Homo sapiens: one gene and its partners. The protein of the gene in region 4 interacts with the protein of the main gene of each other region in a biochemical or structural test. Each region holds a gene or a part of one and is shown on either strand. Other genes may lie near its edges.

Region 1 (7,813 bases), on a different chromosome or scaffold from region 4:
CATCTCTACTAAAAATACCAAAATTAGCCAGGCGTGGTGGTGCGTACCTGTAATCCCAGCTACTCAGGAGGCTGAGGCAGGAGAATCTCTTGAACTCAGGAGGCAGAGGTTGCAGTGAGCCGAGATCGCGCCACTGCATGACAGAGGGAGACTCTGTCTCAAAAAAAAAAAAAAAAAGAAATGACCTGAGAGCATAGGGTCTTCGAAAATCTAGTAATCCAAGCCAGTTTTTTCAGTATTCCATAGAATGATATCATCCTTCCTTTTATATGTAAACAAAGTTAACGCAGTGACTGACTTTTAATGTCCAATATAAAATCAAGATGACAGTATTCTGGACTCAGAATGTCAGAGCAATGGCCAGGAAAGTTCTTTCACAGGGCGATCAACAGGCTTTTGGTAACTTTCACAACCCATGGACACTTTCCTGCTGAGTAAAGTAATACATTAAATCCAAACCTCGGCCGGTGCAGTGGCTCCCGCCTGAAATCCCAGCACTTTGGGAGGCTGAGGTGGGCAGATCACGTGAGGTCAGGAGTTCAAGACCAGCCTAGCGAACATGGTGAAACCCCATCTCTACTAAAAATACAAAAAATCAGCTGGGTGTGGTGGTGGGCGCCTGTGATCCCAGGTACTCAGGAGGCTGAGGCAGAATCGCTTGAACCCGGGAGGCAGAGCTTGCAGTGAGTAGAGATCACGCCATTGCACTCCAGCCTAGGCGACAGAGTGAGACTCCATCTCAAAAAAAAAAAAAATCCAAACCTCTCCTCTCATACGTTTGTTAGGCCAGGCTCACCAGCGAGAAACAATTCAGCTCTGGCTGGTTGGTTAGAAACGAATCTTGACACGAATCAAAGATCTCGTTCTTGTGCAATACCGATCAATTTATTTCCTTCCCTGGGAATGAGGGTGTAGTATGAATTTCCAAAGGAAAAACGCTCATTTTTGGTCTTTTATCTTAAGCAGGCAGACAGGTGCCGGGCACGTGCCTGGCAGATGCCCTTCATGGCTAGTTCCCAGGTACGGGCAGGGACCTCGCATGGCTGTGGTTACCCTGGGCTGGCAGGGGGCAGTCAGAGCTCTTTCCATTTCCCACAATTGCCTGGCCACCTAGGTCTAAAATGCAGAGAGAGGACGTGCAGGGGGTGGCTCTGGAGTTACAAAGCTGCCCCTGAAGCCTGCTGGACGGGACACGGGTCGAGGGAAGGACATTTCTCCATTCAGGTATTACGTGTGGGGCTGAGAGAGCTGGCCACTAGCTCGGGACTCCAAAAACCAGGTTGAAAAGCAAGGCTTCCTCACGTTCTGTGAAAGGGATGGCTGGGTTCAGTGTCCACGTAAAACAAATCCCAACTGGTTGAATACGAACTGATTTCAAGAATGGGTAAGACAGATGGGAAATAGATATATATATATTTCCCATCTGTCTTACTAGTACATATACATTTGTATTGGGAAATATATATATAAATTTATATGGTTGGTACCAGCGGAAGAAAAATGAAGATAAAACCAAAACCTCAAGTTAAGTGTCCCATCCTATGAAACATCTCCCTGGGAAAAATTATTCTCAAGTAAACTTTTATTCTCTGGTGCATTCTTAGGAGTTTACATTGGCTTCTGAAACTTCCTAATCAGCCCCAACCTCCGACTCCCTCTGGTTCCACTGAACGAGAGGCCTGCTAACCGTGCCTCAGTTCACTCTTCTCAGTAGCCAAAGGGTCCCTGCTCTCAAAACATGAATGCTCTAACCCGAGGCAGGGACATAGAGACACACGTGTGCAAGGGCCCACTGGGACTGTGCGTATATCTGGGAATTCATTTCCTGGGGAGAAGGAAAGGTGATGGGCAGGCTGGCTGAGGAAAGGTTAGGGAACAGGAGCCCCAAACTCCCCAGAGGCCTGGGGAGGAAGGGGCCCCCCGAAACTTTAACAAAAGGCAAGTTTTGAATCTGGTTGTTGATAACAAGAATTGAAATGTCCTAGACCCTGTGTGAGAAACGCACCACACGGAGGAGAGGTCTTGAGGAAAGGCCCTGTCGCGTTTCACGTGGCACGCCCTGGATCTCTTGCCGTAACAGTGGCTCAAAAGAAAATGCACCAGAGTAATGATGCTGTGGGCTCTAAGGGTCTCCGCAAAGACGCACCCCCCTCATAAGCGGATTCTAGTCTCTGGGTTTCACTGCCAGCCTGCCCCAGAGCAGTGCTTGGCCCAACACCCTGCCAACGGGGTGAGCGGGCTTACAAACCGCTCATGCGTGAAGGTTACGTAAAAACAAGCCGCCCAGCTCCCCTGCAGGCAGGCGGATGGACAAACGGCACTGCTGGGACCCTGCTTGGCCATGGGGGAAGGACACACACAGCCTGGGTGAGTCCCCGAATCACTGTACCGAGTGGAAGATGTCAGAGGAAACCACGTACGCACTGCAGGAGGCCATTATGCAAAGCTCTAGAAGATGCAAATTAACCTACAGTGACTGAAGGCAGGTCAGTGGTTACCTGGGGACAGGTGGGGCAAGGAGGGGTCGGAGGGGGATTACATAGGACACAGGGAACTCTGGGGTCCGGGCGTCTACGCTGCTTGGACTGCAGGGATGGCTTCTGGTGTTTATACGTATTTCAAAACTCATCAAATTGTACTCTTTAAGTATGTACAGTTCAGTGTATGTCAATGATACTGCAATAAAATTGTTACCCACAGAAAGAAAACAAAAAGCAGCCCAAGGCGAAAAAGTCGATCCTGTGCCCTGAGCACAGGCAGTCCTGAGGTGCGAGCGGTTTCCCACCAGGCTCTTCTTGGCCTTTCGAGAACTTCAGCCCCTCTCTGCTGTTTCCTGTTGCTGGCATCCACTTTCCCATCTCACAATATTTTCTCCTGTCTGGTCTCCTGTATCTGAAACCCACTGCTACGGGATCTCCCCTCTTTCTGGAAAATGTTCATTAAACAGGAAACAAACCCACCCTTTAAGCATCTTCCTTTCTTGCATGAAGCTGAGTAACTCACCATCTGCCCTTGCTTCCAGGCAGCTCAGCTAGACTGCCCACAGCCACACTGTCCAGTATGGAAGCCCTGGCCACATGTTTACATTAATTAAAATAAAACACAGCCGGGCATGGTGGCACGAGCCTGTAGTCCCAGCTATTCGGGAGGCTGAGATGGGAGGATTGCTTCGGTCCAGAAGTTTGAGACCAGCCTGGGCAACGTGGCGAGACCTCATCTCCGAAACAAGTAAATACAACTAAAAATCCAGTTCCTCAGTTCCATGAGTCATGCCTAAAATGCTCAACGGCCCTATGTGGCCAGCAGCTACTGAAGTGGACAGCACCAAATACAACATTTCCATCATCCCAGAACGTTCTGTCAGAAAGGCTGCTCCAAAGAGACAGTCCTTGACCTTCCGGAACTGCACAGTTTGGTGAGATGTGTGCAGAGACAGAGGAAAGCCGGCTTCCCTTTATCCACACACACAGATGGCCAGCATCTCCGGGTGTGCCGAGAAAAGGAAACAACAGGCTCAGGCTGAATGAACCAAAGGGTGCCGGCCCCTTGTTGGCAGGGAGCAGCTTAACTTGCGGAAGCCGGGAGAGAGGCCTGGTGGGGGCCCAGCTCCCCAGGCAGGGGCGGCAGAGTGGGTGATGGGGGCTTCTCTGCAGGTGCACTGCGGAGGCAGACACCAGCGAATCCGGCAGAGACGGGAACTAGCCAGATAAACCCCGAGGGAGGGGTGGGGGCAGGTGGTCTAGGAGGCAGGAACTGCAGGTCTGCAGAATGGGGGGCAGCCAGAAGACCAGAGGCAGATGAGGCTGGTGAGAGGTGGGCCCAGTGGGGGGCCACCTGGGGAAGACAGCCTCACTCTGTCCACCCAGTGTCCTGGCCCACCTTGTCACTCAGATCCCCTCATGTTATCACCACCTGAGATGTCCAGTCTGCCCCAGGAGAGCAATCAGCTAATCCCCCTGCCTGGAATTCACCCTAGCACTCAGAGACCAGATATGCTTTGTGAGGGTTCTCTGGGCTGGCAAAGTGGCGGCGGTGGGAGTGGCCGGGAGACCCTGGGATGGTGGTGACTGGAAGCAGAAGGCAGCAAAGGAGATGAAAAGTGGGGACATTAAAGAACTCCTGAGGCTGGCCGGGCGCGATGGCTCATGCCTGTAATCCCAGCACTTTGGGAGGCCGAGATGGGTGGATCACGAGGTCAGCAGATCGAGACCATCCTGGCTAACACGGTGAAACCCCATCTCTACTAAAAATACAAAAAATTAGCCGGGCGTGTTGGCGGGCACCTGTAGTCTCAGCTACTCGGGAGGCTGAGGCAGAAGAATGGCATAAACCTGGGAGGTGGAGCTTGCAGTGAGCCGAGATTGCGCCACTGTACTCCAGCATGGGTGACAGAGCGAGACTCCATCTCAAAAAAGAAAAAAAAAAAAAAAAAAAAAGAACTCCTGAGGCCAAAAGAACACCAGGACCTAGTGGCGGCTAGATACTTGGGGTGACAAGGGGAGCTCGGGACCTCAGTTTTCTTTTTTTTTCTTTTTTTTTTTTTTTGAGACGGAGTCTCCCTCAATTGCCCAGGCTGGAGTGCAGTAGCGTTGCAATCTCGGCTCACTGCAAGCTCTACCTCCTGTGTTCAAGCGATTCTCCTGCTTCAGCCTTCCAAGTAGCTGGGAGTACAGGTGTGCATCACCATGCCCAGCTAATTTTTGTATTTTTAGTAGAGACGGGGTTTCACCATATTGGCCAGGCTGGTCTCGAACTCCTTACCTCATGATCCACCCGCCTCGGCCTTTCAAAGTGTTGGGATTACGGGCGTGAGCCACTGCGCCCAGCGTTGGGACCCCAACTTTCAACAGGGCAAAGGAAAACAAGTCCGGAGAGCCGGCACCCCATGCAGCTCCTGGGCAAGCTTCTGTAGTGATTTTCATGCACTAACAGCTCATCCTCCAGCCCTGGTAATAAATGGGAACCTGGGAAAGGGGCCCATCCAAAAATCTTGTGCCCCTCACCTGATGCCCATCTGGCACAGATTAAGGATCTAGGAGGCTCTGCATGCCATGGGTCTTCCTGCTGAGGCCTGAGGACATGCTCCATATCTGGTCCCCAGGGCCCATGAGCCAGACTGAGGCACAGCTGCAAAGTGACTGAACTGTGTTGTCGCAATGGTCAAGGTCAATAAGAGCAGAGAACGAGGGGCCACCGCAGAACACAGGACACAACAAGGACACAGGGACCCCTGAGCCCCTTACACAGCCAGAGAAAGCAGCGTGGGAAGACGCCTGCACTTGGGAAGCTGGGTGAGGAGTGTTAATTCTGCAACCTTTCTGTACATATTTCAAAATGGTTTTTAAAAACGTAAAAATGAAACAGATATTTCATTTAGAAATCTTAATTTTGGAAGAACTGACTTCTCTCAGCTCTCGGCCCTGTCTGACTGCTGCCAGCGTGGCCCGGGGGCTCCCGCAGCGGAGCGGCAGAGGGGCAGGCTGCGCCCAGCGGCCTCCGGGCCACTTCGGCCTCTGTCCCGTGTTCTCTCTGGCTGGCAGGTACCTCCTTCTCCATGGTTCCTACATGTATTTGCTCCACTTTTTAGGGAGACTGCTGTACTCCTGGTGAGTGGTACAGCTACACCAGGCCAGCTTTCAGAGGCACCTAGGAAAGGCAGCTCTGGCAGCCCCATCTTGATAGCTTCATTTAAAAAACATTTTTTAAAAAACTGTTCTTAATATCATAACATGGCAGGAAAAGAAATCGCATACTCTGGCCAAGCAGTGGTGGATTTACTATTTGTCATATGAAAAACAAAAATAAAAATTTCTGATTCAGCATCTTAATTCATTGATGGAAAAGACTTCCTGCAGATCGTCTGGCGCAGAGGAGAAAAAAAGAAGGAAAAATGGCAGACTGATCATCTCTGTAGAGCGGGATTATGGTGTTTGTTTTCTCCAGCTGAATCCTACCCAAATAGTCTATGAAATGGATGACATTTATTTATTTATTTTTATCTATTTATTTATTTTGAGACAGAGTCTCACTCTTGTTGCCCAGGCTGGAGTGCAGTGGTATGATCTTGGTTCACCACAACATCTGCCTCCTGGGTTCAAGTGATTCTCCTGCCTCAGCCTCCCGAGTGCTGGGACTACAGGGGCCTGCCGCCACACCTGGCTAATTTTTTTTTCTTTTTTTTTTCTTTAGTAGAGACAGGGTTTCGCCAGGTTCGCCAGGCTGGTCTCAAACTCCTGACCTGAGATGAGGAGGTCAGGAGTTCAATGTCAAATGTTGGGAGGCTGAGGTGGGAGGATTGCTTGAGTCCAGGAGTTTGAGACCAGCCTGGGCAACATAGCGTGACCTCATCTCTCGCCTGCCTCAGCCTCCCAAAGTGCTGGGATTACACATGTGAGAGTCGCTGCGCCTGGCCGGTAACTTTTATTTAACTCGGAAAAAATAAGTTTTGGATAAAACTGTCTTCCCTTGCATCCTTTCCTTACATAGCATCAAATGCCGAATGATCAGCAAACATCACCATCTGGGCTTGTTGAGAGAACACCCACTCCAGCTGCCTGCCATGAGCCTGGGGGGTGTTACCAGCAGCAGTTTCTTTAGGGTTAAGAAGATTTTAAGGCAAATAATGACCACTAATATTCACATGTCATCTCTCACACCTTATTTTTCCTCTTGTAAGCTAAGCAGTTGATCACTATGGGAGAAGGGCTCTTTGCTGCCCGGGTAAGCCCGGCAAACGTGGTGGCTCTGCCCGGCCCTCCTCTGGAGCTGCACCGGACGGTGCGTGTGGAGGCAGCATCTGCTCCTTGCCAGCCCCCACCCCGTTCAGCTGCTGTTTCCCACCTTCTTCTTTTCCACTGGGAAATAACTTGAGGGTTTTAAAAAACTTTGTATCAGAGCCTGCACAACCAGAAACTGCACTGTCTGGTAGGCGGCTAGCAATGTCCGGTGCCTGCCGTCCACGGCGGCCCTGAGAACCCGTCAAGGGTTCTGCCCTGACTCTGCTACATCTGCCTGCCCACAATTCTCCAGGCAACCAACAGCCAGTGATGGTGCTTGGATCTTGAGATGAAACTGACTTGCAAAGTCCGCGGCCACTGCAGCCCAGCGAGGGGAAGAGGATGGACCCAGGGTGTGTGGCTCCTGAGGGCCGGGCTGACACTCAGGCTGGGGTCTGCAGACTCCACGGCTTGGGTCAGTCTCTCGGGAGACCCCACCCTCTCTAGCTCCTGTCACTCTCATACACTCAGCTGCCTGTTATCAGAGCACATTGGGAGTCACTGTGGTAATGACCGGCAAGAAGATGGGAACAGGGATGTCTGCTCTGCTCAGGTTTTTATAAAACCCTGCGGATTCTGTCTGCTCAGAAGCTGCAGTGGCTCAGGTTACCCATCTCTGACTAAGCCTTCTTGAGCAGAGTGGCTGGGGACGGAGCTTCTGCTGACAGCTCACCCAGGAGCTCCTCTGCAACAAGACACGCCTGCAGCGTGTGACGTCCCGCTCCCCTCTTATCAGACACACGTCTATGTGATCACAAGTCCCTGCCTAGAAAAGACGCCGACCCACAGGGCACAATGGTCTACAAAGTTGGAAATGAAGGTCTGCTTGATTCAGTAGAGGAGTAGGCATGCCAAATGTTGACAGCATCGAGCCCTCTTCCTTAGTTGTAAAGCCCTGAGGTCTTTCCAAGGGCGCCCCGTTAGCGTTTAATCATAGCCTCCATGCTGGCCAAGCATTGGCTGGCTTCGGGGCTCGGCTCCCGAAGCTCTCGGTGCAGCTTCTCTAAAGCGCTGGGGCAATGGTGGGTCTCAGACTA
Region 2 (7,813 bases), on a different chromosome or scaffold from region 4:
AGAGTTTACCAAGTGGGAAAGGAAGGATATCTCACTCAAGGCTGAGAGGGCCTGGCTGGCTTGGAGAAGGGTGAGACATTTGGACTAGAGGGTGATGCAGGAGGGGATGAACGTGGCTGGAGAGGGGAGGAGGAGCGGCCCCTGACCTGGGCCTCAGCCTGGCCCAGTTGATCTCTTAAACTTTCTTCCAGCTCTGAATCTTTTTGCATTGCTGCTAAAGCAGCTTCTGTCTGCTTCTGACTTTCTGTGGAATAAGGCCCTGTGCAGGATGGGGGTAGGGATTGAAGCCTTGGAGGGCAGAGGTTGGTTGCTCAGGGGAGGACACAAGGCCTTGCAGTACCCAGGCTGCACACATCACCTTGGCAGTTTGTGGGCAAACCCTCCTGGCCGAAGGGAGATTGCACCGCCAGCCACTTCCTCCAGTTCCTTCCCTCTGCCTGTCGTCACGGTTACCTTGGCCTTGTTGGGGGTGAGGTTAAGGTTGGGCGGAATCAATTTCAGCCAGGTTTCTATTTTCCCAGATGCAGGTCAGCCAGAGGAGCTGTCACTTCTGGTTCAGTTTCAAAGAAGGCCAAGGGACTGGGAGGTGCTTGGGTGTGGCGGTGTTGACGAGGCGCCTCTGCAGCTGACTCCCAGGTGGGGTGGGAGTGGGGCAGGGAGAAGCTCAGAGGTGGTGAGGAGGCAGAAAGGGGGCTGCCCTGCCAAGGCCTGTGCCGATGGCCATGGTGCTGGTCTCGGGCCCAGGCGCTCTGTCCTGAGCCCCCAGAGCATGCTGGGAGTGTGCAGAGAGAGGCTGTTTATTTTCCTGGCCTATAGCCCTTTGGGCTGAGACCTTGTTCCAGGCCTTGGGCTGCCAGAGTCACCCCCCACACCCTCCTCCCTGGCTGGAGAAGTGAGAGAGTTGGCAAGCCCAGGACAATCCAACGGCTTCTCTAATGGCCTATGACTCTGGTCTGTCCCCAGCCCAGCTGGTCCTGGGTGTCCTTCAGATTTTCCTGGTAGATCACCTACCAGGTAGGTAGGCAAGAGGCAGCAAGAGGTGCCACATCAAAGTGCTCCTGATGGACTGGGGCTGTAAGGGCTGGTGGTCAGGAGCAGGGTGCTTGAAACCAGAGAAATCTGAGTTTGAATCCTAATCTGCTATTTTGTAGTTGTATGGCCTTGGGCAAATTGAACTATTGAGCCTCAGTCTCACCATCTGTAAAATGGTACAGTAATAGTAACTTCCTCATAAGACTTTGATGGTGAGGATTAAATGACATGTGTTTAAAGCATTTATCAAAGTAGGCAACAAATGGCACCTCTTGTTATTATTACTAATGGAGCAATAACAACAGCAACTTTGATTCGAAGTCTGTGCTAGTGGGCAGTGAGTCTCCTTCTCCCCCATTCCAGGGGTCGTATTTCACGCATGGTGAGTTTATTAACATGTCCTGAGGGAGAAGCAAGCCCGGAGGCTCAGGAGGCCCCTTGCTTGTTCCCCAGGGTCCTTCAGCTCTCCCACAGGTGGGCATCCTGGGGGAAAGGATTAAAGCCAGATGAGGAGGCTGGGGAGACTGTTAGTGACAAGAGGAAATGGATCCCAGCATTTGGAAAGGGCCAAGAAAGGAACATTGGGTATGGAGGAGCGGGGAAGATCTTAAATCCCAACAGAAGGTAAGAGGAGAGGACAAAGATAGTCAAGGAGGTGGGAAGGTGGCAGTGGAATGTGGAACCTGTGTCCATGCCCAAGACGTTTTTAAAGGAAGTGCCTGGGAACCACTGGCCTGGAAAATTGTACCCAGAGGGCTTGGGCTGGGCAAAAGAAAAGGTCGTCACCGCCCGTTGGGTGCCACCTCTGTGTGAGTAGATTTGCCAGGCTCCTGGCCTCCTGAACTCCTCATCTGGCTTTAATCCTTTTCTCTGCTTTTGCATATTCTTCCCCCAGAATGTCCACCTGTGGGAGAGCTGAGGGACCCTGGGGGCAGAAGCGAGGGGCTTCCTGAGTCTCTGGGCTTGCTTCTCCCTCAGGACATCTGAACCTGGATATCTGTCTTAGTCCATTTTGTGTTACTATCACAGAATACCACCAACTGAGTAATTTATAAAGAAAAGAAATTTATTTCTCACAGTTCTGGAGGTTGTGAAGTCCAATATCAAGGTACTGGTGTCTTGTGAGGGCCTTCTTGCTGCATCATCCTAGGGCAGAAGGTGGGAAAGCAAGAGAGTACAAGACAGCAAGAAAGGGCCAAATTTCCTTTTATAACAAATCCCCTTTTCTAATAACAACATTAATCCATTCATTAATATTGTTACTAACCACCTCTTAAAGGTGTCACCTCTCAACACTGTTGCATTGGGGATTAAGTTTCTAACACTTGAAGTTTGGGAGACACATTCAAACCAGAGCAGAATCCCTGCCCGTTTGGGCTACTGACTCCTCCCTGGGATGCTCTGAGAGGATCCTTGGACTGGCTGGGAGGTATTTCCAACTCTCCAGGCAGTGGGCTGGCAGAAGTGATCACTTGTTCACTGCCGAGATGTGGGTTAGAAAGGCGAAGTTGTCCCTCTGTCTATGTGTCAGGACAGAAACTGTACTCCAAGCCTGCCTCAGTGTCTAATCAGTGGCTCTGTGCCCTCACAGCTAGATGAGGAAGAGGAGCGAAGGAAAAGGCGCCGGGAGAAGAACAAAGTCGCAGCAGCCCGATGCCGGAACAAGAAGAAGGAGCGCACGGAGTTTCTGCAGCGGGTGAGCTGACCGGGTGGGTGGGGAGGCCTGCCATTCCTTGGAGTGAGCTTGTGTACTCTGGACCAGGAGAGGCCATCAGATGTCTCTGTAGTCAATGAGCATCTGCTGGCAGCTGCCAAAGCAGCCTTGGCCCCTCTGCTCTTTCCTACCTCCTGTTTCCTCCCCAATCTCTGAACCAAGACAACCAAGGGCAGCCTTCAGCAGTTCCTGCCCACACAACCCCTGGAAGCCCAAGAAGGAAGGAGGAGCCAAATTCCCCTCCACTGAGGTTAGACCCTTGGTGCTGATTGACCCAGATGGCCCAGGACTGCCACTATCTATTTTGGTTCCCTGGTGGCTACCAAAGTCGTCTAGGGTGGGTGCCAATGAAGCTAGGTAGTAACATCCTGCATGTGGGCACTGGACACAGCCTCTGGCCTGGCTAACTTTGCACAGAGAAAAGCTCCTTCCCTTAGCTGCAGGTGTCTTATCCAGCCCTGCATGCCATCTGGCCAGCCCCTCAGCTCCACTGAAGGTGACCTCCAAGCTCTTTGCTGCTACCTCTGGGAATAAGAGGTCAGCTCTGCATGTAGAGGTCAGCCAGGGGTTGCTTTTCCTCCTGGCCCTACCTGCCCTTTCATTTGGAATGTGCCAAGCAGGATGTTTGTTCTTTTTCTCCCAAGTCCTGCCTCTCAGAGCTTCCCTGCATCTCAGAAATGGTGGCTGGCAGTGAGGGAACATGACCAGAAAGCTAATCAGTGCAGGCCAGGAGTCTCTGGTCTTTCCACCCCTAATCATTGGTTCTTTGCTGAATAATAATAACGATAATGTATAATAATAACATAGGGGCGGGTCCTATTCTGTAAGTACACAGTAACTAACAATAGTTGCCACTATTTGTAAAGTTGGGTGCTGTGCTGAATGCTGTATGTACATTATCTCATTTTATTGGGATAATAACCATATGAAGTGGGTACCTTCATTAGTCTCTTTCTACAGATAAGGAAACTAAGGAAGTGTGGGGCTGAGTAATTTGCCCACATCTCTGCTATATTGGCATTCATTCATTTGTTTGCTCTTTTGTTCATTAATTGATTCAACGGGTATTTTTAAGCATGTACTAAATGTGCATCCGTGTGTTGGGTACACTGGGGGCACACAGGAAGCAGCAGACACGGTCCTCCTGTGGGAGCTGGAGAGACAAGGCTAGATTGGCCTGGTGTTTTTGGACTCTGGAGGGTCTATGGGCATCTTCTCACACTTGCAACAAGCAGAGAGCTATTCTGTGGTCATGGGTGTAGACAGCATGGGGCCGTGTATCTACCTCCAGGCTGTGAGTGTCCAGTGCAGGGAATGGTTATTGTAGATTAGAGTTAGATTCCTGGATCTGGGAGCCCGTTGGAAGAGATGGTGCTACAACATTGGGCTGGGAATCTTCAGGAAGTTTCTAAGACACGAGCCTTCAAGATGGATGAAGTGCCACATACCTCATTTCCAGCACCAAGTGCCTGCCATGAGCAGAGCTGGATGAGAAAGCAGGGACTAGAGAAGCTTCACGTGAGATCCCTGCCTTCAAGAGCTTGTCAGCCAGTTACCAGGCAAGATACGCCCTAGCGGACAGCATGTTAGTGACACACCAGTGCAATAAAGAGTTGGTGCCCAATGAATGGCACTCACTGCCCATCACATTCCAGGAACACTAGCTGAGCACCTACTGTGTGCCAGGCATTTCCCATGTTTTATTTAATCCTTATAATATTCCAGTGAGATAATATTATTTATCCCCATTTTAGAGACTGACCTGTAGCTCAGAGAGGTCAAGTTACTTGGCCAAGGTCACACTGCTAGCGAGTGGTGGGCTTGGATGTATTCATCCTTTGCTGATCCACCCGTCCATTTAGTAGGTGTTTAGTGAGTGCCTAGGGCACAGAGGGCAGGCAGGCGGTGTCGGCAGTGGGATGGGAGGCAGGAAACAAGGAAAGTGACGTGTGCCGAGCGTTATGTTGGGCAAGCCTAGCCAGCTGTGAGAACACACAGCAGGGGCCCTGTCCTGGTCTAGGCTAAGGAAAGGCTGCTTCAATTCAGACATAAAAGAGGAGTAGGAGCAGTGAGATGGAGGCCCTAGGGGGTTATGAGGAATGGAAGGGTTCAAGCAAAGGCAAAAGGTGCTGTTTAAGGATGTGTTTAAGGCATTGAAAAGGATACCAGCTGGAGTTTAGAGTACCAAGTAGTGGGGTGGAGAGGCAGGCAGGGCCCAGATCCCTCATAATAGGGTGATGCTAGATGCTGGGTTGCCTGAGGCATGCCCATTCTGTGCCTGTTGTCCTGGCCTAATGATTAGTAGCCCCTTCCTTCACTCTCACAAGTGCTGCTCTAGGATGATGAATTATATGGTCATGGAGAGTCACTGAAGGGCTGCAGGAGGGGAGACGCACACCTTCAAAAGATCCCTCTGGCGGCAATGTGGGGCACAGATTGAGGTAGAAGGATCAGTTTTGGAAGTGTCATGTTGTTCCAGTGAGACAGAAGTGCGCGGCCTTGGGGTCTGGGAGGAGATTTGGGCAGCATTGTCTGGGCCCAAGCCCAGTCCTCCCCTCACCCCTGTGTTCTCCTCCTCCTCCCCAGCCTTGGAAGCAGAGGTTTGGTGTGAAGTTTAGGGCATGAATGCAGGCGGCTGTGTTGACAGTCAGTGCCTGCAGACCTGGGGGATTCTCTTGTAGTTTATTTTTAATAGGTAAAATACAAGGCTCAGAGATACATATGTTAATTGTTAATAAATAGTAATTATTTAAGTAAGGGGATATATACAGTTGGGACAAATATCTACAGGCGGCCTTTCATAGCCAAGGGTTCTGCAGCTGTGATTTGACCAACAGTAGATCAAAAGTATTCAGAAAAAAAAGCATCTGTACTGTTTATTCCCTAAACAATGCAGCATAGCAGCTATTTACATAGCATTTACATCGTATTAGTCATTATAAGTAACCTAGAGATGATTTAAAGTATACGGGAGATGTGTATAGGTGATATCCAAATAACACGCCATTTTATGTAAGAAACTTGAGCATCCTCGGATTTTGGTATCCTCGGGGAGTCCTGGGACCAGTCGCCCATGGCTACTGAGAGACAACTGTATATATGTCATAGGTAAAAAGCCACCGTCCCACCCTTGACCCCTGGACAACCAGATCCACACCTGGAAGATTCTTAACTGCATCTCAGAGTTCGCCTGCCTAGACTAGCCGAGGCCCTGAACCCCGGGGAAGGGGCAGGCCTTGGGAGGGGTCAGGTCCACACCCCACAGGCCCTGGGGCTGCCTCAGTACATCCTCCATCTGCGGTCAGGAGCAGTGGCCCTGAGGCTTCTGCCTTGTATAATGCTGGCAGCTTCTGTCTCTCTGCTGTCCTAACCCAGGTTCTCTAGATGTTAGTAGCAATAATGCTATCTCACACTCCCGTGGTGCCCTCTGGTCTTCATAGCCACTCTCTCCTGATGGTCACAGTGGCCCTGGGAAGAGGAAAGGCAGTCCTATCCATTGATGAAGTTCAAGGTCACCCAGTGGCCGAGTCAGGACGAGAACCTGGGGCTTCCTCTGTGCCCCACACAATATTCAGGTTGCCCAGACTCAAAAGAAATTAGGAAACTCGTTTGTGGAAGCATAGCTAGCAAGTAGCAGAGTCAGGATTTTAATCCAGACAGGTCTTTCAGGCTCAAAGGGGCATATCAGGCTGCTTCTCAGCTCTTACAAAAACTTAGTGGAAATCTATTTTATATGCCTTAGAATAGCTTTTTAAAAAATATAGATTCAGATGGTCTTTTGTTGTTGCTGTTGCTGTTTTTGAGACAGAGTCTCACTTTGTCACCCAGGCTGGAGTGCAGTAGCATAGTCATAGCTCACTGCAGCCTTGTACTCCCAGGCTCAAGTGATCCTCCCACCTCAGCCTCCTGAGTAGCTGGGACTACAAGCACACGACCATGCCTGGCTAATTTTCTGTTTTTTTGTAGAGACCGGGGCTCCCTGTGTTGCCTAGGCTGGTCTTGAACTCCTGGACACAAGTGATCCTCCTACCTCGGCCTCCCAAAGTTCTGGGATTACAGGTGTGAGCCACCATGCCCAGCCAATTCAAACAATCTTAATGCTTAAAGTCCCCTGGGCCAATCATCATATTTTCTGGGAGGAAACTGAGGCCCAGAGAGAGGAAGTGACGTGGCCAAGTTCACACAGCCAGGATTAAAAGCCAGGACACCCAGCCCTTCACCTTGTATTCTTTCTACTGCCTTTGCCGACCACAGTGTAGGAGGCAGAACCTTAATATGCACTAATTCTATTCTAAAACAACAAATGGTTTCATTTTCTCTGGGGCAATAAATATCTAACAGAAGTCAAAACAATAAACAAAAATGCAGCCGGAGGTATATGCTTCATAATTAATGTGAGAAAGATCTTCGCTCAGTTCCTTCATTAATTAGGAAAACAAATTAGATAATTGTTGTTATAAAGTCACAAACCACTTCTACAATCATGGTTTAAAAAAAAAAGATTCTTCTGAACTCAACTTATATTTACACAATAAATAAATATGTAGAGCCAACTAATAACTCTTTGAGTGTGGAAGGCAGTAAAACTAAAAGGCAGTTAGTTACATTCTGGCTGGGCGCGGTGGCTCATGCCTGTAATCCCAGCACTTTGGGAGGCCGAGGCAGGCAGATCACTTGAGGCCAAGAGTTTGAGACCAGCCTGGCTAACATAGTGAAACCCTGTCTCTACTAAATATACAAAAATTAGCCAGGCGTGGTGGCACATGCCTGTAATCCTAGCTACTTGGGTGGCTGAGGCACGAGAATTGCTTGAACCTTGGAGGCAGAGGTTGCAGTGAGCCAAGATCATGCCACTGCACTCCAGCCTGGGTGACAGAGTGAGACTCTGTTTCAAAAGAAAAAAAGCAGTTAGTTACATTCTGACAGCCAGACAGTCAGAATTCAGGATATTCAATGATGTACCCTAACATTTAAAACCCACAGAATATAATGTTCTTTGTATGATAGCTGCATGAGTAAAGCAAGTTACCCTACACTGCACTGATCTTTGTGTGTGATACAGACGCT
Region 3 (8,733 bases), on a different chromosome or scaffold from region 4:
AACCACCACAACAAAAAAATCCCAACCAGGATCCTTTCTTTAACTGAAATTTTACTTTGGAAGCCCATGAATAAGACATATATCTATCCATAGCTATATCTGCATCTGTCAAGTGTGAAGGTGTGGAGGACAAGATTGTGGTCACAGAGGCTCCACCAGTTCACCCCTGCTCCCATTTCTATTGCCTCCCACTTGCACTGATGTCTTTTACCCTTTGTATATAAAGTTTTCAAGATCCAATGTGTATTTTAATCTTATGGCACATCTTAATTCAGACTAGCCACACTTCGAGTGGCCGACACATGTGTCAAATGACCACCACACTGGAAAATACAGATATAGAGCCTTAAATGGCTCAGAGCCTTTTCCTGAGTCACAAGCACACCTGCCCATGAATTTTGTAGGAAAGAACTGCAGGCCTCTTGTGTCCAAACTCATAGATAGTGGGACAAGCACATGGCCCTGCCTCTGTTTCCATCATTACAGTAGCCACTGTCTTAGTCCAGTTGTGCCGCTATAACAAAATACCTGAGACTGGGGAAGTTGTAAGGAACAGAAATTTATTGCTCACATGAGTTCTGGAGGCTGGGAAGTCCAAGATCAAGGTGCCATCTGCAGGTTCACTGCCTGGTGAGGGTCCAATCTCTGATTTCAAGATAGCACCTTGTTGCTGTGTCCCCACAGGGGAATGGAAGAAAACTAACTCACTCCCTGAAGCCCTTTTGTAATGGCCCTAATCCCTTCCATGAGGCCTCTGCCCTCATGACTTAACCACCTCCAAAAGGCCTCATCTCTTAATAGTGTCACACTGGTGATTAAGTTTCAACATGTATTTTGGGGGAACATTCAAACCATAGCAGCTCCTTCCTTCAGGGAACACTTCTTATCAGCCCTTCCCTAGGCCTGGAGAGTGTTGCTGGATGTTTTGCCAGGCTGGTCTCAATGACCTCAAACACTTACCATGCCACTTTCCTATTCCTCAGCTTATTCCCCACTCCTTCTGGTATAATATCATCTTTATCCTGGATGATTTTTAAGTTTTCTCCAAGCCATTCTCTGCCTTAATTCTAGTACCTCCAGAAATCTATCTTGACCTTGAGGATTATTTTGAAGGCCCCACCTTCTGCCATTACCCCACACACTTAACCATTTAAGTGCACAAAAAAGAAGTAATTTAATTAATACATTTGCTAAATACTATCCATATTATATCTTATATGTTGGCCTAAGTTATTGTCATCTTTTGACTTTAATACATAGTACTTCAGCTGAAACAGTCAATATTTTTCTTATGATGTTTGTGGGAACAAAGATATGCTCAATACAATCATGTTACAACATCCAGACTGAATGAAGATGCTTCACTCTTTCTTTGGGACTGAAACTAACATTAACGCTCTGCTGCTGGTTATTGATATACAGATCAGATTTGTAGCCATTGGCTGACTAGCATTACGAATTTAAGTCTCAGGGCATTATATTTCAGTGTAGTATTTTCACATTTATCGCTCAAAAACAGGAATAAAATCACTTCTTCTTGTCCAAAAGATGTTCTGAAGAGTAGTGAATGGAAAAAAATTCCATCTATAATCTGATTTTTTTCACCAGTCTTATGACTTGAATATAAACTTAGAGATGCCTAACTTAAAAAATAACTACAACTTTGCTTATATTCATAATCTGGTAATTATTCCACATTTCAGGCTTGATATATGATAAGGAATTTTGCCATCTTTCCCAATGTTTCAGCCTGGATGGCTTAGATTCTTAGTCAACTAAATTATAATAATCTACTACTTTGAAACTATAATAAAACAATCATCTCATTACAAGAGTTACATTTCTTCTTGAAATTACTTTTCCATTTTGGGCCTTGTGGGAAAAGCTGTTAAGAACTCTTCTGCAATTGTATAAATCTATACTTTGGGCTTAGATGTTGAGGCATTAGAAATGAATTCATCATTTATAGATCATATATACCTTTAAAGATAGGCACCTTATTTCCTAAAGCAAGTAAATTAATTTTTTTTTCCACTGAATGCCTTTTATCAGCAGGGGATCTTTTTTCCCCCCTGAGCGCTTGAATGAGTTCCCTTTTTCTTCTGAGTTGGGGTATTACCATTCTATGGATAAATGAAGACAGAGACTGGATGAACAGATATAACAGATAGAGTCAGAATCAGAACTTAGAACTCTCAAACTCTGAGTTAATGAAAAATTTTCCCATAATTGTCTATGTTTAGGGAAAGGTAAGCTTTCAGCCTTCCAGCTCCAGATAGATCAAGGGTAGAACCTCTGGGAAGTTCTTTTCTGATTTGTATAGAAATTACCCAGAACCCAAGTTTCCTGACCATAACCTGTTGATCTTCAAACATTTAAGAACCAAATGGTGTGCCCTAAGCACTCTGCTATTATCAGGAGGGTGAATTGACGTGTGTGTTGGTGTGTGGATGGAGAGAGGTGTAAACCAAAAATAAAATTCTAAGCACCCCCCACGCCCCACCCCCTGCCCACCCCGCCTTCCCAGGCAACCCTCTGAACGGACTAATTTGTCAACCAGGGCTCTTGTAAAATTTATCCTGAAAGACTGGTTCAGGCCATGAAGGGATGTGAGGGTGGGACGTGCCCCATTCATTATATATCAACCAACGGACTAATTTCTCAACCCAGGCTCCTGTAAAATTTATCCTGAAAGACTGGTTCAGGCCATGAGGGGAAGTGAGGGTGGGATGAGCCCTGTTATATATCAACATGGAGTTCAAGTCTGATAAGAAACATTTTACAACCTATTGTCTCTGAACCTGCTGCCTGGAGACTTCATCTGCATAATAAAACTTTGGTCCCCACAAGCTCTTATCTTAACCCATACGTTCCTTTCTTTGATCTCAGGTCTTTAGACAAACTCAACCAATTGTCAACCAGAAAATGTTTAAATTTACCTATAGCCTGAAAGCCCACCCGCTCCTTAGAGTTGTCCAGCCTTTTTGGACCAAACCAATGTATTTCTTAAATGTATTTGATTGATGTCTCATGCCTCCCTAAAATGTATAAAACCAAGCTGGACCCCAACCACCTTGGGCACGTGCTCAGGACCTCCTGAGGGCTGTGTCACAGGCCATGGTCACTCATATTTGGCTCAGAATAAATCTCTTCAAATATTTTACAGAGTTTGACTATTTTCGACAACAGACGTTACACAAAATCCTCTCCTATGTAAGACTATCGGATGTGTACGTGATGCCCGTCGTAACACTGGTGTGAAAAGCTGGACTGGGGGGTATGTGCCTGCATGTAAGTGGAGGTGCCCAAGGGGATTTCTCTTCACAGCTCATTGAGCATAGCTGACTTGCTAGCTATGGTCTGACACCTCCTGATTTCAGATCTGCCCTGAAAACAATTACATGAATATGCCCCTGCTACTCAGTATACTACTAGGCTTGGAGTCTGAAGTAGACCTCCAAACCCCATCCAATCAGGTAAGGGAGAAAAACGATAGCCCAACATTCCCTAGTGCTCATAATGTATTATTCCATTATTTCACTTTTTATCCCTTCTCTCACAGATAAGAAAAGAAAAAGCTCTACTTCTTTAGGGTTCTTGGACGTAGACTCTCCACAGTTCATCTGGGGTTGTTCATCTCCACTTCTTTTTGTATCCCAGGGCAACTTTCCTGCAGTTTCCCTAATGAGAATATTTTCCGGACTAGGCAAGGGGCGGCTTGCCCCGCCCCCTACTCTTCTCCCTGATCAGGAGCTGCGGCCAGCTACCTGGCGCCGGCCAAAGTCAGGGGAGCGGGGAGAGGCGGCGTCACCTCCTCCACGCTCCTCCGGCCCCATTCAATCTAGCTATTTGCACTCGGCTCTGGCTCTTTTCCGCCAGCTGCGGCTGTTCCAGAAGCGCCGGGCTGCCGGTCCTGGCCTCGGCAGGGGCCGTGCGGGACCGAGGGGTGGCGGCCGAGGCATGTGGGGCGGGTGGGTTGCGCGCTGCTGGCACGGCGCGGGGACCCAGCGCGCCAGGCGGGAAAGGGGGGCGGCGGCGGGCGGGGACCCAGACCCGGAGGGGCAGCGGGCGCGTAGCGGGCCCCAGGACGCCCGGCCAGGGGATTGGCCTCTGCACCGCTGCTCAGGGCGCGTCCCTTGCCGCCTCTGGCGTCGACTCAAGCCTCCTCCTCCGAGCAGCCCTCAGTGGCGCCGCCTTAGTGCTCTGGGTCGAGCCCCGGGAGGGTTAGCCTGGGGACGGCAGGGGCGTGACCGTGGCGCGGAAGTAGGTGAGCAGCAGGGCGGCGCGCGGCGGTCAGGCCGGGACAGCCAGAGGGGCAGCGACATCTGCGGGCGGGCGGGCGGGAGGCGGACGCTTCCCGGGCGGAGCAGGGCCCTCCGGAGGACGCAGGCCGCGTCGAGGCTGAAGGGCCTCCCTGTCCGGGACGGTCAGCTGCCAAGTTCGGGCCCTTAGCGCGTGGCCCCGGGCCGCGGCTCGGAGCGGAAGCGTCGCCCCTGGCTGCGCGCTCATGCTGGTCCTAGCGCAGAAGACCCGGCGAGGTCCGCGAATTTTGGCTTAGCGTTTGTCAAGTCACCTCGAGCGACTCGGAGAGAACCCGGCTTTCCCACTAGGGACGGTGATCGCAGTCTCTTTCCTTTAGAAAGTTACTCCGATACTTTTGATCATCTGTCCATAGTAAGGAGGAAAAATAGCGTGGTTTGTCCCCGGGTGAGGGAGTGTTGGAGGATCCCGTCCAGTGGGAAGAGCCAGTTTTAGCGGAGCAGCGCGTCCAGCCCGCTGACACTTCAGCCTGGTAAAGGGTTAACTGCATCCTGCCGGTTCGGTTTACATGTAAATAGAGAGCAGCTGCTCCGCGCGGCCCCGGCTGGCTCTTTTAAGTTTTTGATTGGTTGCCAATGACATCACCGCCCGTGTTTTAACACCGAGGACCCAGAGCAGCTTCGGATAAACCCTCCTTAAAGAGATGAGGCCACGCCTTCTTACCCGCCCCCTAGGCTGCCCATTGGTCGCGGGGCTCTGTGAGGTAGCGGTCGGCTTTCTCCGGATTCTTATTGGCCCAACCCGCCGTCGGTCGGCGGCGAGTCCGCCCCCTCAGAACCTTACATTTACAGTGTAGCAAAAGAGAAAGTAACTATGTTGCTGCTGGAGATCAATGAAGCCGAGTGAATGGGGGCTGAATGTGCGAGTCCATAGCTGAAGAGGAGCGCCAGATGGTGGAGGAATACACTTATTTATGAAGTAAGTGGAAGTCACCGCGACTACTCCTGAGAGCCCGGGACTGGAGGTGGAGGATTGTAAGGCGGTGCTTGTGTGAGTGTGAGTGTGTGTGTTTGTGTGTGTGTATCTGTGTGTGTGTGAGAGAGAGACAGAGACAGAAAGATAGAGATGCGATGCTGACGGAGGAGCTACAGCAGGTAGGGTTATAAGGTTCCGGCCGTTGGCTCCTGCTACCCTGTGCGTTTACTCCCTGCAGTCTACTTGGATTTGGGGCGAAGAAAAAATGAGGTTTGTTGGGATGCTTTGCGGCAGTTTTAAATGCTCGGGGCTCATTAGTGCGCTGTGTGCCGAGGAGTGAAGCGGGGGGCGGGGGGATGTTAAGTGCTCCAGGAATGGGGAAGAAGCATTCTCTAACCACTTAATTTTCTCTCCAGCTCTTGCCTAGTGGTGGAAGGGAGAGGGGATAGCTCAGTATTTCTCTGGGAGATTTTCTGGGCCAGACTGGATGGTTTCACGGGCAGTATGTACGCCCGACCCTCTGCTGCAGGGATGCAGGTCTCTCTATACACTCCGTGTGTGTGTGTGTGAGCCTTGAACTCTGTGTGGAGGTGGGGGTCCCAGCGCGTGTCTCTGTGAACACGCTTATGCGTCCCTCTCAGAAGAAATGGTATGTTGATCCTGGACGTGTCCTACCAGGTAACACAATAGCAAAGACTTTCACCGCTTGGTCCAACCGGGAAACAGTTATAGCTTCTGGAATAGAACTCGCTCTTCAGAAAAAATACTACGCAAGGGAAGGGGGGTTGACTCCTTCGCTCCCATCCAAAGGTGGGTGAGAGAAACCCGAGTCGTTGGAGATCTGCCGACGTGATGGGTGCGTGCCCCGTGTGCGCGCGTGAGTGTGGATTCCGCCTGTGACACTTTGGTTCTGTGTCAGAGAATGGTGACGGTCGTGTGTAGACGGATGAGAATGGTGACGGTCGTGTGTAGACGGATGATAGATGGCATTTTTCCTGATAGCTCTTAAAGTTCGTTTAGGTGAGCGTCTCTTGGCGTGGGGTTTGGCGTCTTTGCTATGTGCATGTCTAATAGAAGAAGAAGAGTTAGCAAGCCTGAGTTGTAGAGTGCCCCTGTGCCTACAGGAGGAAGGAGCTGTCTTTTTGCAGACACTCTGAAATCAGAGATAGATCCGGTGGGCAACAATTCACTGTCCCTTTCAACGAGTACAGGCTAATTGGGAGGTCCTCTTTACGGAATCAGTACTCTTGAAGGGGGGATATCTGTATGGGATTGAAACCTTATACAACGTGGCTGCCTCCCATTGAGAGAAGCTCTAGGATGCACAGTCTGTGCCAGCCAGGGAGATGAAGAGGGGAGGAGAGCCCAAGTTGTCCTTTCCAGGCAGGAATGAGGGCGGGGGCAGGTGAGAGAGCAAAGGGTGAGGGATTTGCCGGGGCTGGGGTTTCCAGGTTTCCAGATCTGGCTCCATGGCTTGAGATTTCGTTTTAGGACACCAGTTAGTAGTGAAAAGGGGAAATGCAGATTAATTTATAAGAGGCCAAAAGACAACATGTGAGGTTTTAGTATGACTATGTTGTGCTTTTCAAAGGACCCCAATAGAGAATGGAAGGCAAGAATAGCTCCAAGTTAAAGAGATTCACTTAAGGGGATTTGCAGAAAGTTGACATCCACCCTGATGTATATTTAGCTGCTGTACCTTTCTGTGAACCATGCCAGTGCTCTTGGTTACCCCTTTGCCTTTGCAGCGAGTGAGGGAATTAAATGGCAAGCATGCAAGGGTGGACAAATGGGTCTTTCTCAGATGTTTGCAGTGTACTTCTGCCCGAGAGCTGAGGTTCAGAATAGATGCCTCTTAAGAGCCTCCCTTCTGTCTTCAGCTTTTCTAATTATTTGTGCTTATACCTTCTCTACAGCTGAACTTTTATGTAGGTCCAGGAAAGGTTGTTCATTAACATTTACAACATTACATCCAAATTTAACCTTAGACTTAGCAACCAAATTGATTGGAGCCCTCAGGTTTGCATCCTCTTTGAATACATAAAAATGAATTTCAAGTTTTGATAATGGTATGATAAAGGGCAATTAGGACGACTTTGCTCAGAGGGATGCAAAGGTCTTTCCCAGGGATTGGATGAGACTGCCTTTTGTGTCACGTGACTTTATTCTTTCTTTCCCCCTTCCCCTTCTTTACAGACTGTCTTGAGTTCTTCTTGAATTGCCAGTTTTCAGCCTCCTCATGCCTCCGTCTCCTTTAGACGACAGGGTAGTAGTGGCACTATCTAGGCCCGTCCGACCTCAGGATCTCAACCTTTGTTTAGACTCTAGTTACCTTGGCTCTGCCAACCCAGGCAGTAACAGCCACCCTCCTGTCATCGCCACCACCGTTGTGTCCCTCAAGGCTGCGAATCTGACGTATATGCCCTCATCCAGCGGCTCTGCCCGCTCGCTGAATTGTGGATGCAGCAGTGCCAGCTGCTGCACTGTGGCAACCTACGACAAGGACAATCAGGCCCAAACCCAAGCCATTGCCGCTGGCACCACCACCACTGCCATCGGAACCTCTACCACCTGCCCTGCTAACCAGATGGTCAACAATAATGAGAATACAGGCTCTCTAAGTCCATCAAGTGGGGTGGGCAGCCCTGTGTCAGGGACCCCCAAGCAGCTAGCCAGCATCAAAATAATCTACCCCAATGACTTGGCAAAGAAGATGACCAAATGCAGCAAGAGTCACCTGCCGAGTCAGGGCCCTGTCATCATTGACTGCAGGCCCTTCATGGAGTACAACAAGAGTCACATCCAAGGAGCTGTCCACATTAACTGTGCCGATAAGATCAGCCGGCGGAGACTGCAGCAGGGCAAGATCACTGTCCTAGACTTGATTTCCTGTAGGGAAGGCAAGGACTCTTTCAAGAGGATCTTTTCCAAAGAAATTATAGTTTATGATGAGAATACCAATGAACCAAGCCGAGTGATGCCCTCCCAGCCACTTCACATAGTCCTCGAGTCCCTGAAGAGAGAAGGCAAAGAACCTCTGGTGTTGAAAGGTAATGCCCCTGCTCCCTTCCCAAGCACGGTCCTGATTAGCCGGGTTCACTTTGGGTTTTCTCGTAGAGTGACAGCATTCTCCTTACCCTGGCTACCAAAGACCAAAATAGACTTTATTCTTCTCTTCCCTTCTATGCTCTTTATTGTTTTGGTTTAGTAAGAAAAACCCAGCAGCACTGAACTGGAAGCCAGAAGATCTGGGTTCTACCCTTCATTTGGGTTCTAATTTGCATTGTGCAAGTCATTTCACCTCTCTGGGACTGTTTTCTCATCTTTCTAAAAAGGGGCTTTATACACACCAGATGGTATCTCAAGTCATGCCTGGTCTGCTAGCTCTATTCCAATCAATCACTAGTTGGAAAGTTATTGTCTCTCAGACTTAACCAATGTTGATGGAACAGAGGAAGGAGCAACTATGGTGAACTACAAGTAAACCTACAGGTACCA
Region 4 (7,813 bases):
CTGTTTCTTAGCAAGCAGCTGGTGAGTGGAGTTCGAACCCAGATCACTTCCCAGATAAGGATTCTTTCCTGGGTCCCTCAGCTCTGAGTATTCTCTTTTGGCTTTTAACTTGTTCTGGAAGAATGACCACCAATCTATTTAATGTTTTCCTCCATTTAACTTTTTTTTTTCTTCAAAAGGATCCTGCAGAGTTAAAAACAATACTATTTTTGCATAGACTTCTCTTTTGACAGCTTTGATTTTCCTGGCAATTTAATTTTCAGGGTGCCAGGACTTTAATTTGTTCACAGATTAAAATCTGTTTATTTGGTCCCGTAAATAAACAACAGAGGGGATACTTGAATGTGTCTAAGATAAAATATTCTTAATTTTCTGGATAAAGAAAAGGACCAGACAAACCAGTTAATAGCGAGTAAACCAGTTGTTTTCATGAGGCATAAGATAAAACAGAGACCAGATTTTTTTTCTTCTTGAGACTATTGATTTGCCAATAGGGCAACTATTTTTGGTCTACATACATACAGTAGTTACACCTCACACTTGGTTAGGAAGGTGCCATTTTTACATAATTTTCCTTCAGAATAATTAATTCCTGATACTTTGTACTTGATTGTATGAACCAGTTTCAACATCATTCTTTTTATTTTAACTTTTATTATGGGAACTTTCAAACATATACAAAATAAACAGAATAGTGTCCTGCTTTAACAGTTATTAACTCCTGACCAATCTTGTTTCATCTCTAATGGTATCCACTTGCACCCTTACCACCCATAATTATTTTCAAGCAAATCCTAAATATCATGTCATTTCATTCATTATTTTTTGGGATACTAATTACACAGTGGGTGCCCAGTAAATGTTTGGTAAAGACAAAGCTAAATGGGAGAATAAATGTGGTAGGGTAGCTCGGAGCAGTGGGTAAGATCAGGACTTTGAGTCAGACTCCCAGTGGGTCTGCTGCTTATCTGGGTGATGTGCAGAAGCGATTGCACTCATCTGTAAAACATACGGGCACAACCTCAGGGTGCTCAGGAGGTGTACAGTAGTTATACTTCACACTTCGGTAGGTCTCTAAAGGTACTGACTCTTTTAAAGTTGAAAAAGTAATAATTGCTTAATATCATCAAATAACTAGTCAATATTCAAATTTCCAGCTGCCCCATGAATTTTAGGTTTCCTTAATAGTTTGAAAGTAGAGCAAGAGAAGGCCATACGTTGTTGATTGGATGATACGTCTTTTAAGTTTCTCTTAATCCATAGATCCCCCTCCTATTTCTTTGTTTTCTTGGTAGTTTATTTGTTGAAGCAATCGAGTTGTTCCTTAGCATTTCCATAGTTGGTATTTGATTGATTGCATCTCTGCAGTGTAATTGAATGTGTTTCTCTGTAATCTCTGTAAGTTAGTAATTGGATCTAGACGAGGCTTCGTCAGATTTAGGGTGCATTCCTGCATCAAGATGCCTTCCTAAGTGGGCTGTGCACTTCTTATCTAGAGGTACCCTGAGGCTCTCTGCTCGTCCGTGTTGCAGATGAGTGCAATCGCTTGCTGCACATCACCCAGATAAATAGCAGACCCACTGGGAGTCTGAAGTCAAAGTCCCGATCTTAACCACTGCTCCCAGCTGCCCTACCGCATTTTTTCTCCCATTTAGCTTTGTCTTTAACAAACATTTTTTGGGCACCCACTGTGTAATCAGTAGAGGATTGAGAAATAAATCAGACACATTTTCTGCCCTTACAGAGTAGAAGTGTAAGTAGACTCGGAATGCAATCTAAAGCGAATACTGGGAGGGTGGCAAAAATGGGGGCATGCCCAGCATGGTTTGAAGGGAAAGGCTGGAGGAGGAAACATGTAAGAGAAGCAAGTGCTTGAACTAGATTTTTGAAGGAGGGTGAATGTTGACCAGCAGGTCAAAAAGGGGAGGGAAGTCATTTCAAGCAGATGGAACAGCTTAGGCAGAGGCCTGAAGGTGTGCAGTAGCTGGGTGTGTCCGCTGATCCCAGGTGGTTTGATGTTGCCTAAGATTGGGCCAGAGGACTGCCATCTCCTGTGCTGTGCTAGGGAACTGAATCTTATTCTCCAGGCAGTCAGTCACTGTTGAAGGAGTTCAAATGGGAGAATGGTGTGATCACTGCACACTTTCAACAAATCTCTCTTTTTTCTTTCCATATTTTGAAATAATTATAGATTCACAGGAAGTTGCACAAATGGCACAGAGAGGTCCCAGTACCCTTCCCCCAGCTTTCTCCCACGGTTACATATTTACACAACTGTAGTAAAATGTCTAAACCAGGACATTGGGCATCGGAGCAAGGTGTATAGAGTTCATTGTCATTTTTTATCGTGTGAAAATTCCTATAACCACTACCACAATCAAGATTCAAAACTATGTCATCATCCCAGATATCTCCTTGTCCCACCCCCTTACAGCCACAGCAGCCCCTTTTCCCCACCATTCATAACTGCTGGCAAGTACTAATCTAGTCTGCATCTCTATACTTTTGTCTTTTCAGGAATGTTATATGCATGGAGTTATACAGGATGTGACTTTTTGAGATTGGCTTTTTTCGTTGACTATCCTGCCCCTGAGATCCACCCAAGTTGTGGTATGTTTCAGCAGTTGCTGAGTGGTATTCCATGGTATGGGTATACAGCAGTTAGTTTAACCATTTACCCATTGAAGGACAGGTTTGGGTTGTTTCTAGTTTGGCACTATTAAAAATAAAGCTGCTGTGAACATTTGTGTACATATTCTCACGTGGAGTGATTTCTCTTTCTAAAGTGGCATGTGTGCAGTGGTTCGGAAGTCACAGAAATGGTGGCTGGGAGAATGCTTCTGCTGTCGCTGGTCCAAGGAGCCACGAGAAGCCCTTACCCAGGGCCCTGGGAGTGGGGGATTGAGAGGGAAATAGGCAGGCCTGGGTGCCTGGAAGTGGGGCTGGTGACGGAGATCCTTGCAGGGTCCTATGGATCCAACAGTGGGTGAAGTGATAACCAAATGCTAGTTGTTCTGTATTGTGGTATATACTGTGGCTTAAGAACTACAGAGGATGGCCCTGAGAGCTGCAAGGTTCTTGATTATCAAAGAAAGATTACGTTGTTATACCAAGCTATTCTTCATAAGAATTACAGTAGGAGGCCAGGCGCGGTGGCTCACGCCTGTAATCCCAGCACTTTGGGAGGCTGAGGCGGGCGGATCATAAGGTCAGGAGATCGAGACCATCCTGGCTAACACAGTGAAACCCCATCTCTACTAAAAATACAAAAATTAGCTGGGTGTGCTGGCGGGCGCCTGTAGTCCCAGCTACTTGGGAGGCTGAGGCAGGAGAATGGCGTGAACCTGGGAGGCGGAGCTTGCAGTGAGCCGAGATCATGCCACTGCACTCCAGCCTGGGCGACAGAGCGAGACTCCGTCTCAAAAAAAAAAAAAAAGAAAAGAAAGAATAAAGAATTACAGTAGGAAAATAGAACTTTTTAAATTTTTACTATTTTTTTTTTTTTGAGACGGAGTCTCGCTCTGTCGCCCAGGCTGGAGTGCAATGGTGTGATCTTGGCTCACTGCAAGCTCCGCCTCCCAGGTTCACGCCATTCTCCTGCCTCAGCCTCCCTAGTAGCTGGGACTACAGGCGCCCGCCACCACACCCGGCTAATTTTTTGTATTTTTTTAGTAGAGACGGAGTTTCACCATGTTAGCCAGGATGGTCTCCGTCTCCTGACCTCGTGATCCACACGCCACAGCCTCCCAAAGTGCTGGGATTACAGGTGTGAGCCACCGCACCCGGCCAGATTTTTACTATTATTATTATTATTATTGTTTAATATAGAGTTGAAGCCTCACCATGTTGCCCAGGCTGGTCTGGAACTCTTGGGCTTAAGTGATCCTCCCACCTTCGGCCTCCCACAGTGCTGGGATTACAAGTGTGAGCCATCTTGCCCAGCTGGAAAACAGAACAATTTAATGAAAAAAATGTCGGCAGCAAGCATTGAGACAGAGGGTGATTGTGAGAATCTGCTTTTAATCACAATAGTTAGTTGATTTAAATATCGCATGTCCTGGGTACTCTGAAGCTTTAGTGTGATGAAAGGTTCACTTGAGTCTGTGGATCACTGAATCGTTGTCATCGTTAGAGGAAAAAGTGTTTTGGTAGGTTTTGGTAGGGGGAGTCAGCAAGGTGAAATGTGCAGGACTGTGTGCTGGTCCTGGCCAGCCCATGTGCAAATAGCTTCACTTTCTAAAGGGATATCAGAATGGTGCTTTGGGAGGAACTTGAATATTGTGGTGAAACACTCCTAAATTCAAATCTGAGCCATGCTGGGAATTTGGACAACTTCCTTACTGGACAACTTCCTCTAAGCCTCAGTTTCCTCATTTGCAGAGCGGGGATAGTAATATGCTTCTCACTAGTTGTTATAAGGGTGTTGATAAATGTGTACCTCAGAGCCAGGCCCACTCTCATGCCTCTAGCCTTATCTGCCTGAAGCCCGTCTTCCATACAAGTGTCAAATGATCATTCTGCAGCTTTTCATTTAACATGTGTTGTTTAATCAGTTTTTAAATGTGAAATATGTACATTTGAAAAACAGAATAGAAAGTTATAATGGGAAGAAAGTTTCTCATTTCCCACTATTTCTCTACTTGCCAGCATTGTGTATGTGCGTGTGTATGCGTGTGTGTGTGTTTACGTAGCTGGGCATTATGTGTTCTCTTCTTCAACTTGGTGTATTTCCTTTCTGTATCTTAGACATCTTTCCACATTGATACATAAAGTCCTTGCATTCTGTTGAATGGCCTTGTTGTACTTCTGTGCCATAATTTATTCAGTCCATCCACAGTGTGCATTTTAGATTACTTCTAGTTTTTTGCCTGTTACAAGAAGTGTTACAAACATGCTTGCACAAATATGTTTGGATACTTGTACACGTATTTGTCAGATACACTTAGAGAATTGTGTTTGCCAGTTTAGGATATGCAGTTAACATTTTTATTAGCCAGATCTATATTCCATCTAAAAAAATGTTTTACCACTTCTCAGCTCTCACTGACGTGTATGAAAGTGCCTGTTTCCTCATGCCTCGGTCGATACTGTGAACAAACTTGAGCTCAGGTCTTGCCTCCTCCAGGAAACCTCCTTGTAGCGTTCCCTCCCAGTTTTGAGTTGCTCATAGCCTGGAAGGGAGGCAGACCCTACAAAGGCTGTGACAGTGCAGCCTGGCGGGCGCTGCTGAGTGCACAAGTGGCAAGGAGGGAGCCCTGTGCTGGACGGATGGTGGCAGCACAGCCTGGGAGCTGAGGGGGAGGAACCAGCACCGGCTGGTGTGGGAAGTGGAGGCAGCGAATGCAGGCTTTAGTGTATTGCTAATGTGGTTTCATGAAGAATTCTTGTACTTCCCGATTTGTAAAACTGTTTTCTGAGCCCCAGTTGATGGTCCATTTTGTTGAAATATCATCTCAATAGAGTTGACTCATGAATAGCTAAATTACACACCTTCTCAGGTGGCCTTAAGTTTCTTTCTCTTGCTCTCACAAAGCCCAAACTTGACAGAGAAGGTGGCTTTAACAGGTTTTCACTTAGGTGACTTTTTTCTCCTGCATAATAAGGGTACCTTATTTTAATTTTATAATTATTTTAAATCTTTTTGTTTGTTTGTTTTTGAGATGGAGTCTCGCTGTGGCCCAGGCTGGAGTGGCACGATCTCAGCTCACTGCAATCTCCACCTCCCGGTTCAAATGATTCTCCTGCATCAGCCTCCCAAGTAGCTGGGATTACAGGCACGCACTACCACACCCGGCTAATTTTTGTATTTTTAGTAGAGATGGGGCTTCACCATGTTGGCCAGGCTGTTCTCAAACTCCTGACCTCAAGTGATTCCCCCACGTTGGCCTCCCAAAGTGCTGGGATTACAGGTGTGAGCCACCATGCCCGGACTATTTTAAATCTTGAGATGGAATTACAATTCTAAAACCTAATATGAGTGAATATACTCCCCAAATTTAAAAAAGTTAACCTAATATTGTCATAGTCCAAATATAGGTTGAAAGCAGTTATAGCAGGGAGAGTTGCAGAGTTGGTCAGCAGGGTTGAGATTGATCTGTCAGTCCCAACGTGGACACGGGGTCCTGAATGGGGGGTGGCTCTGTGCCATGAGGTAGTTAAGGAATCCAGCTGGTGGGCAGCTTTCCATCTACAGCATGTGACTTCCATCTCTGGGTCTGTGACAGCTGATCCCTCAGCCAGCAGCAAGGAAGAAAGATTGGAGGGCAAGCAGCTTTCTGTAAAGAAAAATAAAAGTGATCTGGAAGTTGCATACATCACTTCTACCCACATCTTATTAGTCAGAACTTGGTCATCTGGCCATACCTGGCTGCTGGGAAAGCTGCCAGGCGTCGTCTCTAGTTGGGCAGCCATTTATCTAGCAGGAAGGGGAAGGAAGGCTTCTCTTATGAAAGCGAGGAAGGGAGGGATGGATCCTGGAGCACCTCAGCGCCTGTGTCGCACCTCTGATGTTTTGACGGCTTCCACAGCCCTCAGGACTGAGGCCAGACGGCTCTGCGTGGCTTCTGGGGCTCATAGTGATCTGGCCTCCTTTTCTCTCTCCAGCTTCACTCGCCCTCTACCCAGCAAGTCCCTAGTGACTTGTCACATTCCGAATGTGCCTCCGCCTCTGCTGCTTCTCCTCCCATTCCCCCAAATCTTCTTCACCCTACTGGGTTTAGGACCCTTGGTGTGCAGGGCCTCCTCCTGAGTGTGCGCTCACTGAGGGCAGGCGAGTGTCCTGGCATGGTACCTCACCATCCACAGCGGGTGCTCAGTACATGCTTGCAAGTAACTGTGTTGCTGGTGTGTTGACGGCATAGCAGAGGAACAGCCACCCTCCGTAAAGCAGGTGGTAGTGGGTGCCTGCCTTTTTGCTGAGTTGTCTCTAATCCTTTGCACTTGTACCCCGCTAGCCAAGCTCAGCAGTTCGCTGTGTCTGGACACAGTCAGTTTGAGCTCTGTGGCTCTACTGTCCATCTCTGGCAAAAGAGTCTGAGGGCGGATGCCGCCTCCTCCTTGAAGCCGTCCTTGTCTTCTGCCCCTGCCAGTGGGTAGGATCTCTTTTGCCTTTTGATTTTGTTTACATTGTGCTTATGGCCCTTACCGCACTGTGACTTGTAATATAGATAATGGACTCACTGCTCGCGCTTCTCCCCCAAATAGTGAAGTACATGTTGTTTCAAGACTGGTTGCTAGCTGACTATGGCATATCTTTTGCTATACTTACCACTTTCGTGCATAAAGGTACCCCCTAAATGTTGAGTGGAATTGTTTCAGCCTCTTGCAAACTGTAAATAAGCTAATCTTTAGAAAGGATCTTCCTTTAGATATCAGTAAAATGGAGCAGCACTGTGGGGAATCAGATCAACAAAGGTTTATTGAATGCTCACAGTGCCCCAAAGACCAGCTTCCTGTCCTCCTGTCCTTGGAGTATGAGATGCCATGAGCAAGACAGACCTGCCTCGCACCTCCTATAGCTTAGAGCACAGTGACCTGCCAGCCTGGAGAGCTCCTGAGTCCCCTTCTCACAGCAGTGTGGGCTAGGCAGGTGTTCCAGCTCACTCAGCCCTAGATTGCTCCCAGGTAACACGGGACTGAGACTCCTGCGGTGCGGGTTGTATGAGCAGCTGTTTGTCCAGCATCTAAGCGCTGTGGCGTCACTGGAGTCACTCCCTGGCTGGCACGCTAACACACCTCGGCAGGAGTGGTCAGAGTGGCAGCCACACTGCAGCCACCACCCAGAGGACGGGGAGAAGACCGTGGGGCAGTGGTC

What was found.
Region 1: the proteins of MAPK9 (region 4) and MAPK8IP3 form a complex in vitro, tested with the Homo sapiens proteins (2 studies listed by BioGRID).
Region 2: of the proteins of MAPK9 (region 4) and JDP2, one has a biochemical effect on the other in vitro, tested with the Homo sapiens proteins (one study listed by BioGRID).
Region 3: of the proteins of MAPK9 (region 4) and DUSP10, one has a biochemical effect on the other in vitro, tested with the Homo sapiens proteins (one study listed by IntAct).

The regions. Positions count from the first base shown.
Region 1 is NC_000016.10:1,708,675-1,716,487, reverse strand, and holds part of MAPK8IP3 (C-Jun-amino-terminal kinase-interacting protein 3), read right to left. Parts: intron 2,960-7,813; exon of another isoform or gene 2,701-2,959; intron 2,487-2,700; exon of another isoform or gene 2,297-2,486; intron 1-2,296.
Region 2 is NC_000014.9:75,458,803-75,466,615, forward strand, and holds part of JDP2 (jun dimerization protein 2), read left to right. Parts: intron 1-2,623; coding exon 2,624-2,728; intron 2,729-7,813. UniProt on the Homo sapiens protein: Component of the AP-1 transcription factor that represses transactivation mediated by the Jun family of proteins.
Region 3 is NC_000001.11:221,738,486-221,747,218, reverse strand, and holds the start of DUSP10 (dual specificity protein phosphatase 10), read left to right. Parts: upstream 1-5,129; 5' UTR 5,130-5,238; intron 5,239-7,431; 5' UTR 7,432-7,474; coding exon 7,475-8,285; intron 8,286-8,733. UniProt on the Homo sapiens protein: Protein phosphatase involved in the inactivation of MAP kinases. Has a specificity for the MAPK11/MAPK12/MAPK13/MAPK14 subfamily. It preferably dephosphorylates p38.
Region 4 is NC_000005.10:180,281,772-180,289,584, reverse strand, and holds part of MAPK9 (mitogen-activated protein kinase 9), read left to right. Parts: intron 1-2,517; exon of another isoform or gene 2,518-2,610; intron 2,611-7,813. UniProt on the Homo sapiens protein: Serine/threonine-protein kinase involved in various processes such as cell proliferation, differentiation, migration, transformation and programmed cell death.